4 linked regions of the Homo sapiens genome follow. The protein of the gene in region 2 purifies or fractionates together with the protein of the main gene of each other region. This does not show direct contact. Each region holds a gene or a part of one and is shown on either strand. Other genes may lie near its edges.

Region 1 (3,500 bases), on a different chromosome or scaffold from region 2:
GGAGTGTAACAGGCTACAGCACGTGGCATGGCTGCACCCTTTCCCCTGCTGCCCCTCTAGTCAGCCTCTTCCCTAACCCCATCTCCCAGCAGCCACTGCTGACTTTCCCTTCCTCTCATTTTGTATTAACAGGTATTAGAGAGTGGGGAGCGAAAGCAGTGAGTTAACCACCAGGGCAAGCAGGGTTAGGGGCTAATTCCACTAGGCAAATCGCTTTGCTGCCTGATATCGCAATCTGTTTCCCCAACTGATGTGATACAGTCATCTAATTTTTTTTCTTTTTTTCAGATGGAGTTTTGCTCTGTCGCCCAGGCTGGAGTGCAGTGGCGCGATTTCGGCTCACTGCAACCTCCACCTCCCGGATTCAAGCAATTCTCCTGCCTCAGCCTCCTGAGTAGCTGAAACTACAGGTGCCCGCCACCACACCCGGCTAATTTTTGTATTTTTAGTAGAGACGGGGTTTTACCATGTTGGCCAGGATGGTCTTGATTTCCTGAAGTCGTGATCCGCCCACCTCAGCCTCCCAAAGTGCTGGGATTACAGGCATGAGCCACTGCGCCCGGCCCAAGTCATCTAATTTTTAAAGCTAGGAAGGATCTTAGAGTTTTCCTGGTTTGGATGCAGCAACCAAGAACTGGGTTTAACAGTACTGAGGTCAAGAGATTATTTCACGGTTTAACAATGTTCAATATTAGAATGCTATCCCCACAGCAAATCTAAAATATAGTCCTGACCTGGGGCCATTTCAGGGTGTGTATTGTTCGTGACACACTACCTTTTGAGCCCTGTTCCACATATGAAACGTAGCAGTGACTGTTTCAATCTTTTATCATATTTATTTTAAAGAAATGAACAGGGTTTGGAACCAATTCAAATAGAGGATGGAAGTTAGAGAAGCAGCAAGAAAAAGGAAGAAAGGGCTGATTGTGCAGGCACTGTCTGCACAGCTGCCATGTGCCCACGTGGGATGCGTGCGGGGCGGGGCGGCGATGCCCCCGGGGACTGATGGTGGAAGGGCTGGTCTGCTGCCTGCTCTGTGCGTCGATGCCATGTGACAGCTCCCCCCCATGGCCCAGCCTATGTGATCTCTCTGCCCTGCACTGAGTCTGCACTGCATTCACGGTGCCAGCATTTCAGTCAGTGCACCACATGTGCCTGTCTATGGGCCCGGCAGCCACGTGCAGGGCGGGTGGTGAAGGAATGAAGACTGCCTCAGCTCGGGGGAGCCTGGGCATTTATGAAATTTACCTGGCCTAGATTTTCTCTTAGGTCCGTTTCCTGTTCTATGAGTAGTAAAGTTTAAATTCAGGTTGAGATCATCAGTGTGGTCTAATGAAATATATATGTATATATAAAACTTTATTATGCCATATGTGCACATCTACTTTCATAACATTTTGTATTTTATAGAACACAAAATAAATACTACTGAATTACTCAAAAATTAAAAAAAAAATCACCGACTCCTGCATTTTACTATGCTGTCTTCTTTTTTCCATTACTTCTTATGTATGCTACTAATACAGTTTACTGAATAAGTCATAGATAGCTTTCTTAAGACCTTTTCTATACCAGTCACTTGAAACGAGAGCCAACTTCTAAATTCTCCTAAACCCAGAAGAAAGGTCTTACCTTATTCTGTCACTCAGAAGACATGCAAGTTACAGGTGACGAGATGTACCTACTAACGCTATTAAGTAGGTATATCTGCTTATTCTGATTCTTATTTGGATTCTGCTCTTCCTAGAATCCAAATCATTATTTTTAAAAGGTATTTTAGGAAACAAAACCTTGTTGAGCACATTCAACTGGCTCCTAAGAACAGCACACAGGACTTACTTTTTATCTGCTCCACTGGAAAGCTGGGGCAGGGCTTCCAAAGCCTGCTTAAAACTTGACCTGAAACACAAACAGCCACACTGAAGTTGAAGCCTTGCACAGGAGAACTGCTGACAAATTCTTAAGCATCCCTTAATTATTGAGAAGCCAATAAAAGCCAGTGAAGCAAGGAAATATGAGAAAAAGTAAAAGTGAAAAACAATAGAAAAAGTAAAAGTAAAAGCGAAGGTGTAGCTACCAGGTGGAGGCTTTGTAGCAACGGGGTCAGAAAAACTCAAATAGGAAATGAAACGCTACTTGAAAAGCTAAAGGAAAAACATCTTCGAAAGGATGCTAGTGATAGAGGAGAGCTTAATGTGAACATGTTTAATTTAAAAGGAGTCTTTTCAAAACAAGCAGCTGGGGATAATCCAGTTACTCTAAGAAATGGGGATGACCTTCTGAAAGATGACACAGTGGGGTGTTTACAGTATTTGGCCTGCACAGGGCCTGATCTACAGCCAATGTCTTGTAATAATTACAGTCTACTTAAAACTTGTAGAAAAATGGAGAGCTATATAGATGCTTTAAAAATTCAATGTAAGTTCTTTACATGAAGGTAAAAGGAAAGAATTTTAAAAAGAAAACTGTGGGATGTTTAGCTTTTACAAGGAGAAAGTATTAGAAAAATTACCAAACCAAATGAAAAGCATCATAGGGGAGACTGTGGTAATTAACTTGTACCATTCACAAAGGAACAGTTCTTTTATCTCTCTTATGATTGGTTAAGGTGAAGAAATACTGCAATTCTTGACTTTAGGGGGTCGTTGCTTTTATATTGTAAAAACATCCTCAATCTACCAGGAAATACGTTTTTGAGCAATATTCCTCAAATCAGGGGCAAGTGTCACAGCAACAGAGAGAAAGACTGAAAAGTTCCAACAGAGTCATAAAACCCGGTGCTGGGCATCTCCAGCTGCTCCCGGGAGGGCGCGGTGGGGTGTGGGACGGGTGGCTTGGCGCACTCGGGTCCCTTCCCACATTCAGCGGCCTCTTTCCTGGTGTGGAAGCCACTGCCGCTACCTCCACCATCAGCTTGTTTCTTATGAACCTCTTTTTGATTAATTGAAAGAAATGTGATGTAATTGTTTTGACAGTATGACAATAATGATAAACATACTACATATTATTGGCAGGGTACTGAAAATTAAAAAGTGATTTGGCACATTTTCTCATTTAACACCCTCAAAAGCTTGCCTAGAATATTTTAAACTTCCTCTATAGATGAGTACCTTATACTCTAAAACTAAGTCAGCAGGAAGAGGGTAGGCATTTGCATGAAGTGTGCACACATCCAACATGGGCTGGGTGCTTTCCATCCTGTTAGTATGTTGTACAGACAAACGATGGCTGGGAAAAGGTGTGGCTCAACAGTGAACATGGCCCACTAAAAATGGCTGCTGGTGAGCTGTGACCGACGGGAATGAAAGGCTAACTTCATTGGTTAGGAAAAAATGGAAAACGTATTTTCAGTTGCAAAGCTGACAGAATGACAGCAAGCCATGTTATCAGATGCTGGAAATGAGTGAGTAAGCATATTACAGTGTCCTCAAACATTTCATTTGCATACGACTTGGCTTCTCAGGCACATCAACACTATAACCCAGTATTTCCTAGGTAAT
Region 2 (3,500 bases):
GACAATAGGTTATCCATACTGGCATTCAGTGCTGATTCAAAATCAGAAAGTGTAAACAAGGGGAGAACAATTGTTCAAAGCCCACCATAATTCATTTTATATTTATTTATTTATTTATTTTTGAGACAGGGTCTTGCCATCGCCAAGGCTGGAGTGCAGTGGTGCAATCACAGCTCACTGAAGCCTTGACCTCACAGGGTGAATGTGATCCTCCTACCTCAGTGTCTCAAGTAGCCGAGACCACAGGCGCCCGAAACCACACCAGATTAAGTTTTTTTATTTTTTGTAGACAAGGGGTTTCACCATGTTGTCCAAGCTGGTTTGGAACTCCTGGGCTCAAGTGACCCACTCAAGTGCGGTAAGCCACCATGCCCGGCCCCACCATAATTAAAAAGTGGTTTTTTTTTTTTTTAAAGTGGGGGTTACAGCATGTTAAAAAGTGACTTGGGCCGGGTGTGGTGGCTCACGCCTGTAATCCCAGCACTTTGTGAGGCCGAGGCGGGCGGATGATGAGGTCAAGAGATCCAGACCATCCTGGCCAACATGGTGAAACCTCGTTTCTACTAAAAATACAAAAATTAGCTGGGTATGGTGGTGCACGCCTGTAGTCCCACCTACTCAGGAGGCTGAGGCAGAAGAATCACTTGAACCCAGGAGGCGGAGGTTACAGTGAGCCAAGATCCTGCAACTGCACTCCAGCCTAGGGCAACAGAGCAAGACAGTGTCTCAAAAAAAAAAGTGACTTGAAGGTGTTTCTCTGCCAAGTCATCCCTGCCCCAGGGATATAAGGTTTAAAGTTAAAGTAGCAAGGTGTCTCCACCTAACTCCAACTACCCAAGAGTCTCAAAACCTTCCCCTTCCTGCTCAGTGTTCTTTTATTTCCTTTTCAAGAAATGTGAACTGCTATAGCCAGAAACATGTTCCTTCAGCAGTGTTTGCAGATGGATCTCATGAAAGTTCAGAAAAGGGTGGTTCACTTCAAGCGGGAGACAGTGGAGTTCCTCCACTATAAGGCGAAGTTTGCAAAGTCCCACTAGTTTGCTCTGAGAACATGAGACCCTTAACCTCTGGGTCATGTGTTTGAGGTCCATTTTGGTGCAGGCATCACCTGATGCTAAAAAAGGATCATTGTTTAGTGTGGGGTTCTTAACTTGGGATGCTTACATCCCCTTCCCCTACCTCAAGAGGTCCTTGGGTAGAATTCAATGGGATCCATGAATATGAATGACAAAATAAACAAAACAATCTTTATTTTCACTAACATCTAACTGAAATTTAGCACCTCCTTTTATTATAAATGTAGGAAGCAAACCACAGTATTATTACTACTACTGCTACTATTACTACTACTACCTAGGAATTTATCATCAATAAAAATTATATTTTCATATCCTATTATAGTTATCTCAAAATACTGAGATTGCAGACGTCTCAAAACATCATTTATACTCACCACTACTTTGAAGTAAGGCAGTATTAAATCCTCCACAAATCTTCCTATGTCAGTAAAGAAGCATTATCTTGATATATCACAAATCTGGTTTTTTAATATTTTGATTATACTTCAATATAATTTTGCTTCCTTTGTAATGGTTTGTATTTTGTTTTATTCACTTAAAAATAAAAATACTCTGCCCGGCACGATGGCTCACACTTGTAATCCCAGCACTTTGGGAGGCAAGGCCGAGGCAGGCAGATCGCTTGAGCCCATGAGTTCGAGATCAGCCTGGGCAACTTGGTGAAACCCCATCTCTACAAAAAATATAAAACAATTAGCCAGGCATGGTGGCATGCACCTGTAGACCCCAGCTACTTAGGAGGCTGAGGTGGGAGAATCAACTGAACCTGGGGAGACTGAGGCTGCAGTAAGCCACGATCGCGCTACTGTGCTGCAGTCTGGGCAACAGAGTAAGACCATGTCTCAAATTTTTAAAAATATATATTCTGAGAAGGGGCTCCACAGTTTGCACAAATGAGTAGCAAAGGAGCCGTGACAAAAGAATCCCTGTAACTTGACAACAACAACAACAACAAATACCCTCCTTGCTCATAAGTTCCCACAAAGGTATTTATTTTATTTTGCTTAGGGTGGTGATAAATCATCCTTCAAAACATGCACACATTCATTTGTGAGCTTAAACTCTCCTCAATTTCTGATGCTGGTCATTTGCAGATCATTAGACCCAGAAGTGATTTTTAGAGACCAGGAATAGTTTCAACTAAAGAATTCGTTGGGATTCTCTTGGACTTTTCAGTAACATGGGCCAATAAAATTCCTTTTTCACTTGGAGTAATCCAAGTAAGGTTTTTGTCATTTGTACCCAATTGGGCTCTGACTAACACGGAACCCCTCTATATTGGTTGAGGCTGTTGAGGATTAGAGGAAGGTGGGAGACCATCTGGGTGGCTCATATCTGCATCACGTTGGATTGTGTCCTAATACCAACAAAACATTGATAACACACCTATCATTCGAACAGTTTCCAAGTGAGGTACTTGTAAATATGTTGTTTCATCTAATCCTCACAACAGGCTCTTCAGGTATGTATTATTCCCAACCTTTGTGGATGAAACAAAAAAGGACTAGAAATTTGTATTTGTATCTAATCTAAACTCCCTCAATTTGTATTCATTCTGCTAAGAATTCCTCCTACCAGACAAACCCACTCTGGGAACTCCAAGTCATTCTTTAAGACTCAATTCGGCTACCACCCCTCTATGGAGCCTCCCTCCCTTCATCTTCCCCTCCCAAGTACAGCCCCTCAGGTTAAAGACACCTGCACATCCCTCCATCACAACACCTGACACATTGTGCTGTCTGCTTACTCCTGTATACCACCCCTCCCAGACTATGTCTTTCCCAAGGGCAAAAATATTTTGTATCTCAAGTACAATGTCTGAGGCAAAGCAAGCACATAATAAATGTTTGATGTGAATAAATTTATTGGTCACCAGCTACATGCTGGCTTTAAATCAAGTGCTAGAATACAAAAGTGACTCACAGTTCAGAGCAAATAAACAAGAATTCATTGAATGCTACATAGTCCTAGGCATTGCAGATACAGGTAAAACACAGGTCTGACTTAAAGAAGCTTACTCTCTAGTTGGAGGCCGTTGACATGTAAACGGAAAATTTCACTAGAATTTAATATATATATTCTAGAATTATCTATGGGAAAGGAGCACTTAATAGGTGGAGAAGAGTGGTAGGGATGGGGTGTCAAGAAAGGTTTCTGAAGATGCCATCTGGACTGAATCATATCACAAGAGAAAGAGTAGCATATTTAAATCCCGAGTGAGTAGAGAGAGTGAACAAAATCAGAGAACAACCTGAGCGTAGAAACCTAGGGAATAGGCCAGGCGCAGTGGCTCACGCCTGTAATCCCAGCACCTTGGGAGGCCGAGGAGGGTGGATCACCTGAGATCAGAAGTTCGAGACCAGCCTGGCCAAGATGGTGAAACCTCATCTCTACTAAAAATATAAAAATTAGCCAGGTGTG
Region 3 (3,500 bases), on a different chromosome or scaffold from region 2:
AGCCCAGCTCAGCACTTTCCCTTTTCAGGACACCTCTGCTTAGGTGGTCCCTCTAGCTGGTCTGACCTCCTGTCTCCTGGCCTTCCCTGAGTCCAGATGAAGTTCCACCTTGTATTAGTCCATTTTCACACTGCTGATAAAGACATAACCAAGACTGGGCAATTTACAAAAGAAAGAGGTTTAATGGACTCACAGTTCCACGTGGCTGGGGAGGCCTCACAATCATGGCTGAAGGTGAAAGGCACGTCTCACATGGCAGCAGACAAGAGAAGAGAGTTTGTGCAGGGAAATTTCCCTTTATAAAAGCATCAGATCTTGTGAGACTTATTCACTATCACGAGAATAGCACAGGAAAGACCTGCCCCATTCAGTTACCTCCCACCAAGTCTCTTCTACAACACGAGGGAATTCGAGATTTGGGTGGGGACACAGCCAAACCATACCATATCTCTTTCAGGAAGCCCACCCTGATCTCCTATCCACAATGCTCACTCTTCTTGGAACTCTCACAGCACTTGTCCTAAAATGTTTTCCATGTTCTCTAATGTTCTAATAAGCTCTCCTTTTTCTAACTCCTAGGATAGATACATATATTACATCCCTATATATTACCTCATTAACCTCCACAATGCTCCTATTGGATAGGTATTATCATCCTCATTTTATAAGCAAGGGAACGAAGGCTGAGCTGACTCTTGACATGCAAAGGTCACACACCCAAGTGCCAGAGCCAGACACTTTTTTTCTAGGCCTCCCCATGAGAGCATCAGTGCTACAGGCTGTAGGACAGGCCTCTCTTCCTGTCCCCCACCACCACCTGCCACAGGGCTGGCACTGTGAGGCCCTTGACACATACTGAATACTGGCAGGAACCCCGGTGGACTCTGACTCATTTCTTTCACTCTCTGGGTGGCACCTGTTTCGGTAGCCTCTATTACGTAGGCCCCAGGAATTCTGGGGGCAGGGAGGACACATCTAGGACATTCCCCTCTCTCCCCCACCTCAAGGCAGGACCTTAAGTGATGTGAGTGGGAGTATGAACATCTCCAGCTCTACTGAGAAGGGGGTGGGGGCCCTGGGCGTGCACTCCAGAGCCCCAATGTCCTGCCCTTGCTGGTCACAGGTGCCATTAAGTCACCGAAGCCAGCCAGCCAGCCTCAGGGCAGCACTCCACCAACCCTGACCATATTTTCCCAGGCACTAAACAAAAAGCCTACACAGGTGCTGTTAAGCATTCAACTCCCCACCCACATGCCAGGAACTAAAATAGCTGTAGCGTATGTTAATCATTAGCCAGGCTGCACCTCAGACCTCCCCTCTGAGGGCTGGCACCTGGGGCAGCTCAGCCTGGAGAAACTCCAGACAAGGCAGGCTGGGAGAGTGGCAGCGTCCGGAGCCTCACCAAGGGGCTGAACTTGAGCAAGCAGGTTCTGAAAGACACTTCTTCAAGATAAAGTCAATTCCCAGTGCACTAGCATTTGGATTACATAAGAATCCTAAAATACTGGAGCTGGAAAGGGCCTTCATGAAATCATTTCATTCAACCTGTTTATTTTATTTGAGGTGGGAGCTGAGACCCAGAGAGCAGAAAGACTCTGCCTGAGGTCTCAGAGCTGGCTGGGGGCAGGACAATGACTAGAACCACATCTCTGGATTTCCAGGCCAGTGCATTATGAACCAGGCTGGTCCCCAACCACTCAACGTATTTCTGGGCTCCATCACACCTTCTCAGGCTGGAGAATGGACTTGAGAAATACAAAGGTTAAACCCCGGAAAGAGAAGAAAGTTACTACTGCCTCCCAAATAATGTCCCATATAATCAAGCCACTCAGAAAAGTACCAGCCACTCCATAGGAGCCTTATGACCCTGTTTCTCTCCAGATCCCCTCCCTATGTGTGATGACAACAGAGAATGGGGGTTGGCAACCACTGCTCTGATCTCTCAAGGATATTACCAGCCACGGAGACCGAACATCACCCCCACCTCAGTTCAGGGTTCAAATAGCCTCTGCCCTCAAACTCTCCTAGAAACAGTCACCTAGGTGTCATATTTGGGGTTGAAGAAGGGAAGTTGGGAGGAGGTAGCACAAAAAAATAACCCCTGGCCGGGCGCGGTGGCTCACACCTGTAATCCCAGCATTTTGGGAGGCCGAGGCGGGAGGATCACGAGGTCAGGAGATCGAGACCATCCTGGCTAACATGGTGAAACCCCGTCTCTACTAAAAATACAAAAAAAATTAGCAAAGCGCAGTGGCGGGCGCCTGTAGTCCCAGCTACTTGTGAGTCTGAGGCAGGAGAATGGCGTGAACCCAGGAGGCAGAGCTTGCAGTGAGCCGAGATCATGCCACTGCACTCCAGCCTGGGCGACAGAGTGAGACTCCGTCTCAAAAAAAAAAAAATAACCCCTATCCCACTGGGTCTTGGAGGGGGCCCCTCGATCCCATGGGGTCTGGAAGATCTGGTGGTGGCTGCAGCAATGGAGTATGCGGATGCCAGACCTGACGGCTGGGAGCAGCAGATGACTCTCGGGGCATCAGCAAAGCCACAGCAGCTTGCCAGCTTGTGCACCAGCCCACAGGAACAGAAGCTGCCTTGCTTGCACTGCCTGCGGGCTTGCCACTGTCATGAGAAACCATTCCCACTTCCTAACCTGAGGAACACAGGCTTAGCCAACAGCAAGACTGATAAGCATAGTAGTAGTTTCAAATTCAGGAGAGCAGTGGGTGGTGTTCCAGAAACTTCTGATTGTCCTCCTCAACCATCTGTTCTCTCTTGCTTTAGTAACAGAACACACCATAGCCTGGCACACAGCAGCCCCCACTAAGGACTGCTTTCCAGACCCCTAGCAGCTAGGAGGGCCTGCCATGGGGATGTGAAAGTGAGCTGTCTTGGGCCATGCAGTTAAGGGAGGCACCTAGACGGTGCTACCCAACATGTGGCCCGGCGGCATTATACAATATGGGAGCCTGTAAGCAATTAACGTGCTCAGGTCCCATCACAGACCTCCTAAATTAGAATGATTCAGGGTGCAGTCCAAGAATCTATGCTTTAACAAGCCTTCCAGATTGTTCTTATACATGCTCAAGTTTGAAAACCACAGCCCTTGAGAATGCTAGGGACAACAGTCCATAAGGAGCCTGGTGCCAAGACAATCTCATGGAACACACACTTAACCTCGACCCTGATTTTTCAAGAAAGAGTGAGAGAGTGAGTGAGAGAGAGAGAGAGAGAGAGACGGGGCTCCTCTCTTCATTCACAACCAAACCTGAAACGTAATACAGGTGGCGTGGGGAAGATGACGATGAGAAACTTAACCCAACAGCAAAAATCAGGAAAGGAATGCATGCAAGTATAATAAGTAATAAGCAAGATGCAAAGAATAAAATCAAGTATATCTGGTATGTCAACAGTCAGAATTCCTCTACCAAAGACAGAAACCATGCAATTAGGTTTGTTGCTGTTATCATTGCCTTCTGTCAACCTCCATCCACCCTCAACCA
Region 4 (3,500 bases), on a different chromosome or scaffold from region 2:
CCTGTAATCCCAGCACTTCGGGACGCCAAGATAGGCAGATCACCTGAGGTCAGGAGTTCGAGACCAGCCTGGCCAACATGGTGAAACCCCGTACAAAAATTAGCCAGGCATGGCGATGCACATCTGTAATCTCAACTACTCGGGAGGCTGAGGCCAGAAAATTGCTTGAACCTGGGAGGTGGAGGTTGCAGTGAGCCGAGATTGCACCATTGCACCACTGCACTCCAGCCAGGGCAAGAGCGAGACTCCGTCTTTAAAAAAAAAAGAATCAGGGTCTTGCTGTGTTGCCCACACTAAAGTATAATGCCTGTGCACTTGAACTCCTGGCCTCAAGCAATCCTTCTGCCTCAGCCTCCTGAGTAGCTTGGACTACAGGCACATGCTACCGCACCTGGCCTTAGCCTTCATTTTAAGCAAGACTTTGGCATAAAGTCTTAAAAGGTGTGTGTGTGTGTGTGTGTGTGTGTGTGTCTGTCTGTCTGTCTGTCTCTGGATCAGTAAGTCTTACCTAAGTCTTCATTTTAAGCAAGACTTTGGCATAAAGTCTTAGAAGAGGGGTGTGTGTGTGTGTGTCTGTCTCTGGATCAGTAAGTCTTACCTAAAAAACATTACCTAAAAAGCATAGCCAAACAAGTGTCAGAACTAGAACGGCAGATTAGAACAACTGCTTAAGAACTGGGAAATGAAACAGTAGTTCCCATATTCTTTTGAGACATCTATAGTCTAAGAGGACACCCAATAAATGTCTGCTGAATAAACAAGGTGCTGCAGCAATAAGTCGCTGGGGTGCGGAGTAGGAACCTGCAAACTGGTTAGCATCAGCTGCTTTGGAGGAAAAACTAGTTTCACATAAAATGTAAAACAAAAAGTGGAACCCAGTATTATAGCAGTACTCTTACCACTCTTGAGAAGAGCCTTAGGGTCTCCAAATCTTCTAAAATGTTGCTGTTTTTGGTAGTGATCAGTACCATATACAGTTTCTCCATAGGCTGGTAGACATATCTTACACTCTCTGTTTCAACAAACGTATGTTGTTTTCCAGTGTTCATGAGCTTTGGAAAAGCTGCTAATAAGCCCTCAATCCGAGTTCGGGTCATTTCCACAAACTGTCGAGAAACAATAGCCTTTCCTGCTTTTGTGCAGACCGCTGCTGCCAACAGCACCTGCCAGGAACATATGCATAAGTAAGTACTAATTATTTCTTCACATCTGTTTTCTCAGCATCTCAGGAAATGTTCCATAGAATGACATATTTATTTAGTGACATGACTAGTAGTAGTATTATTTTTAAGACAGGGTCTCACTCTGTCACCCATGCCGGAGTGCAATGGCAAGACCACAGCTCACTACAACCTCAAACTCCTGGGCTCAAGAAATCCTGAGTGGCTGGGACTACAAGTGTGTGCCACCAAGCCTCGCTAATTTTTAAAAAGCTTTTAGTAGAGACAGTATCTCGCTATGTTTCCCAGGCTGGTCTTGAACTCCTGGGTTCAAGCGATCCTCCTGCCTTGGCCTCCCAAAGTGCTGGGATTATAGGCGTGAACTACCACGACCAGCTGACATGACAAGTAATAGAATACTGACTTTCACGGGCACAGTGGCTCACACCTGTAAACTCAGCACTTTGGGAGGCCAAAGCGAGTGGATTACTTGAGGTCAGGAGTTCGAGACCAGCCTGACCAACATGGTGAAACCCCATCTCTACTAAAAATACAAACACATTAAGAGACTTAGACATGTCAATCAATCACAATGTATAAATCAAATTTGAACAGTGACTGAATAATTGATAATATTAAAAATTATTGCTAATTTTTTAGGTGTGAAAATATGCTATCATGGTAATATATTTTTATGTAAGGAATACTTATATATTTTTAAAAAAGAGTTGTGTAGTTTTGAATCCTTCCATAGTCTCTCATATTAAAGGTGCTCCCTCAATGACTTTATATTGAACTAAAATAATTGTCTGGGATACATCTTATCTTCAAACTACGCTAGTTTTGCATGTAGTACTAACAAAAGGTCACTGGATTTAGTAATTATCCTGAGGATCAGAATTCACAATTTCTTTCTTTTTTTTTGGAGACAGGGTCTCACTTTGTCACCTAAGCTGGACTGTAATGGTGCAATCTTGGCTCACCGTAGCCTCAACTTCTGGGCTTGAACAATCCTCCTGCCTCAGCCCCCTGAAAGGAGCTGGGACTATAGGCAGGTGCCATCATGCCTGGCAAATTTTTGTATTTTCGGTAGAAGTGGGGTTTCACCATGTTGCCCAGGCTGGTCTTGAACTTCTGGACTCAAGTGATCAGCCCACCTTGGCCTCCCAAAGTGCTGGGATTACAAGCATGAGTCACCACGCCTAGCCAGAACTCACAATTTCATGTGTTGAATATCAGTTACAAAATATTCCTTTTAAAAGCAACTATCCTAATATTATATAAATGGGTTTTTATGACTTGGGATAAAATTTCCCAAACTGCCAATATATCACACATGGATTCAAAACTGCTAAATACCAAACTGATGATTCAAAAAGTGGCCCCAGTGATGACATGATGTTCATAAAGAATCTAGAAAAAATTGTTTTATTAATATGAAAATGGAAAAAAGTAATTATTTCTAAATTAAACTTTATTTATTTAAAACATATACATATAAGTGAATTATTAACTATTTTAAGAACATATTTGACTATTTTTGCTACCTTTTTTTTTTTTAAGATGGAGTTTTGCTCTTGTTGCCCAGGCTGGAGTGCAATGGCAAGATCTCCGCTCACTGAAACCTCCACCTCCCAGGTTCAAGTGATTCTCCTGTCTCAGCCTCCCGAGTAGCTGGGATTACAGGCGCCTGCCACCACGCCCGGCTAATTTTTTTTTTTTTTTTTGTATTTCTAGTAGAGATGGGGTTTCACCATGTTGGTTGGCCAGGCTGGTCTCAAATGCCTGACCTCGGGTGATCTGCCCACCTCGGCCTCCCAAAGTGCTGAGATTACAGGCATGAGCCACCGCCCGGCCTATTTTGGCTGCATTTTAAAAAGTTTATACAATTGGCAAAAAGCTTTCCTTCTTAATAGTTTCATCAGAAAAGTAGGGAATTCCCTTATATTTGGGATCATTTCACATTGGTTTCTCCTTTTCCTAAAGACTTAGAACTAGTGTCCCAAATTTGCAAAGAACCAAGCTGATATTAGAAAAACTAAATGACTGGGAGTGAGAAAATCTATTTTCTAGTTTTGTTCTTCTATTTACTATCTGCCTGACCTTCAGTTACCCAACCTCTCTTAACCTCGTTTCTTTTCCTATAAAATGCAGCATTATCTAATGACCTTACAAGCTATTATGAGGGCCAAATGACTATAATGAAACTGTACTTCAGAAGTGCTATACAACTTGTAGCACATATATTCATGATGTAAAACAGCACCATTAGTAATAATAAACATGCATCTCATGAAAAAAATTTATGCCACTTCAAGGTAATGGATTTTTCTTTTTTTA

What was found. The genes of interacting proteins can lie anywhere in the genome.
Region 1: the proteins of PGM1 (region 2) and EXOC2 fractionate together in Homo sapiens (co-fractionation; one large-scale study listed by BioGRID). This does not show direct contact.
Region 3: the proteins of PGM1 (region 2) and ANXA11 fractionate together in Homo sapiens (co-fractionation; one large-scale study listed by BioGRID). This does not show direct contact.
Region 4: the proteins of PGM1 (region 2) and ARCN1 fractionate together in Homo sapiens (co-fractionation; one large-scale study listed by BioGRID). This does not show direct contact.

What each region holds. Positions count from the first base shown.
Region 1 is NC_000006.12:487,140-490,639, forward strand, and holds part of EXOC2 (exocyst complex component 2), read right to left. Parts: intron 1,900-3,500; coding exon 1,840-1,899; intron 1-1,839. UniProt on the Homo sapiens protein: Component of the exocyst complex involved in the docking of exocytic vesicles with fusion sites on the plasma membrane.
Region 2 is NC_000001.11:63,596,411-63,599,910, reverse strand, and holds part of PGM1 (phosphoglucomutase-1), read right to left. Parts: intron 1-3,500. UniProt on the Homo sapiens protein: Catalyzes the reversible isomerization of alpha-D-glucose 1-phosphate to alpha-D-glucose 6-phosphate. The mechanism proceeds via the intermediate compound alpha-D-glucose 1,6-bisphosphate.
Region 3 is NC_000010.11:80,195,538-80,199,037, forward strand, and holds part of ANXA11 (annexin A11), read right to left. Parts: intron 1-3,500. UniProt on the Homo sapiens protein: Binds specifically to calcyclin in a calcium-dependent manner. Required for midbody formation and completion of the terminal phase of cytokinesis.
Region 4 is NC_000011.10:118,578,909-118,582,408, reverse strand, and holds part of ARCN1 (coatomer subunit delta), read right to left. Parts: intron 1,164-3,500; coding exon 900-1,163; intron 1-899. UniProt on the Homo sapiens protein: Component of the coatomer, a cytosolic protein complex that binds to dilysine motifs and reversibly associates with Golgi non-clathrin-coated vesicles, which further mediate biosynthetic protein transport from the ER, via the Golgi up to the trans Golgi network.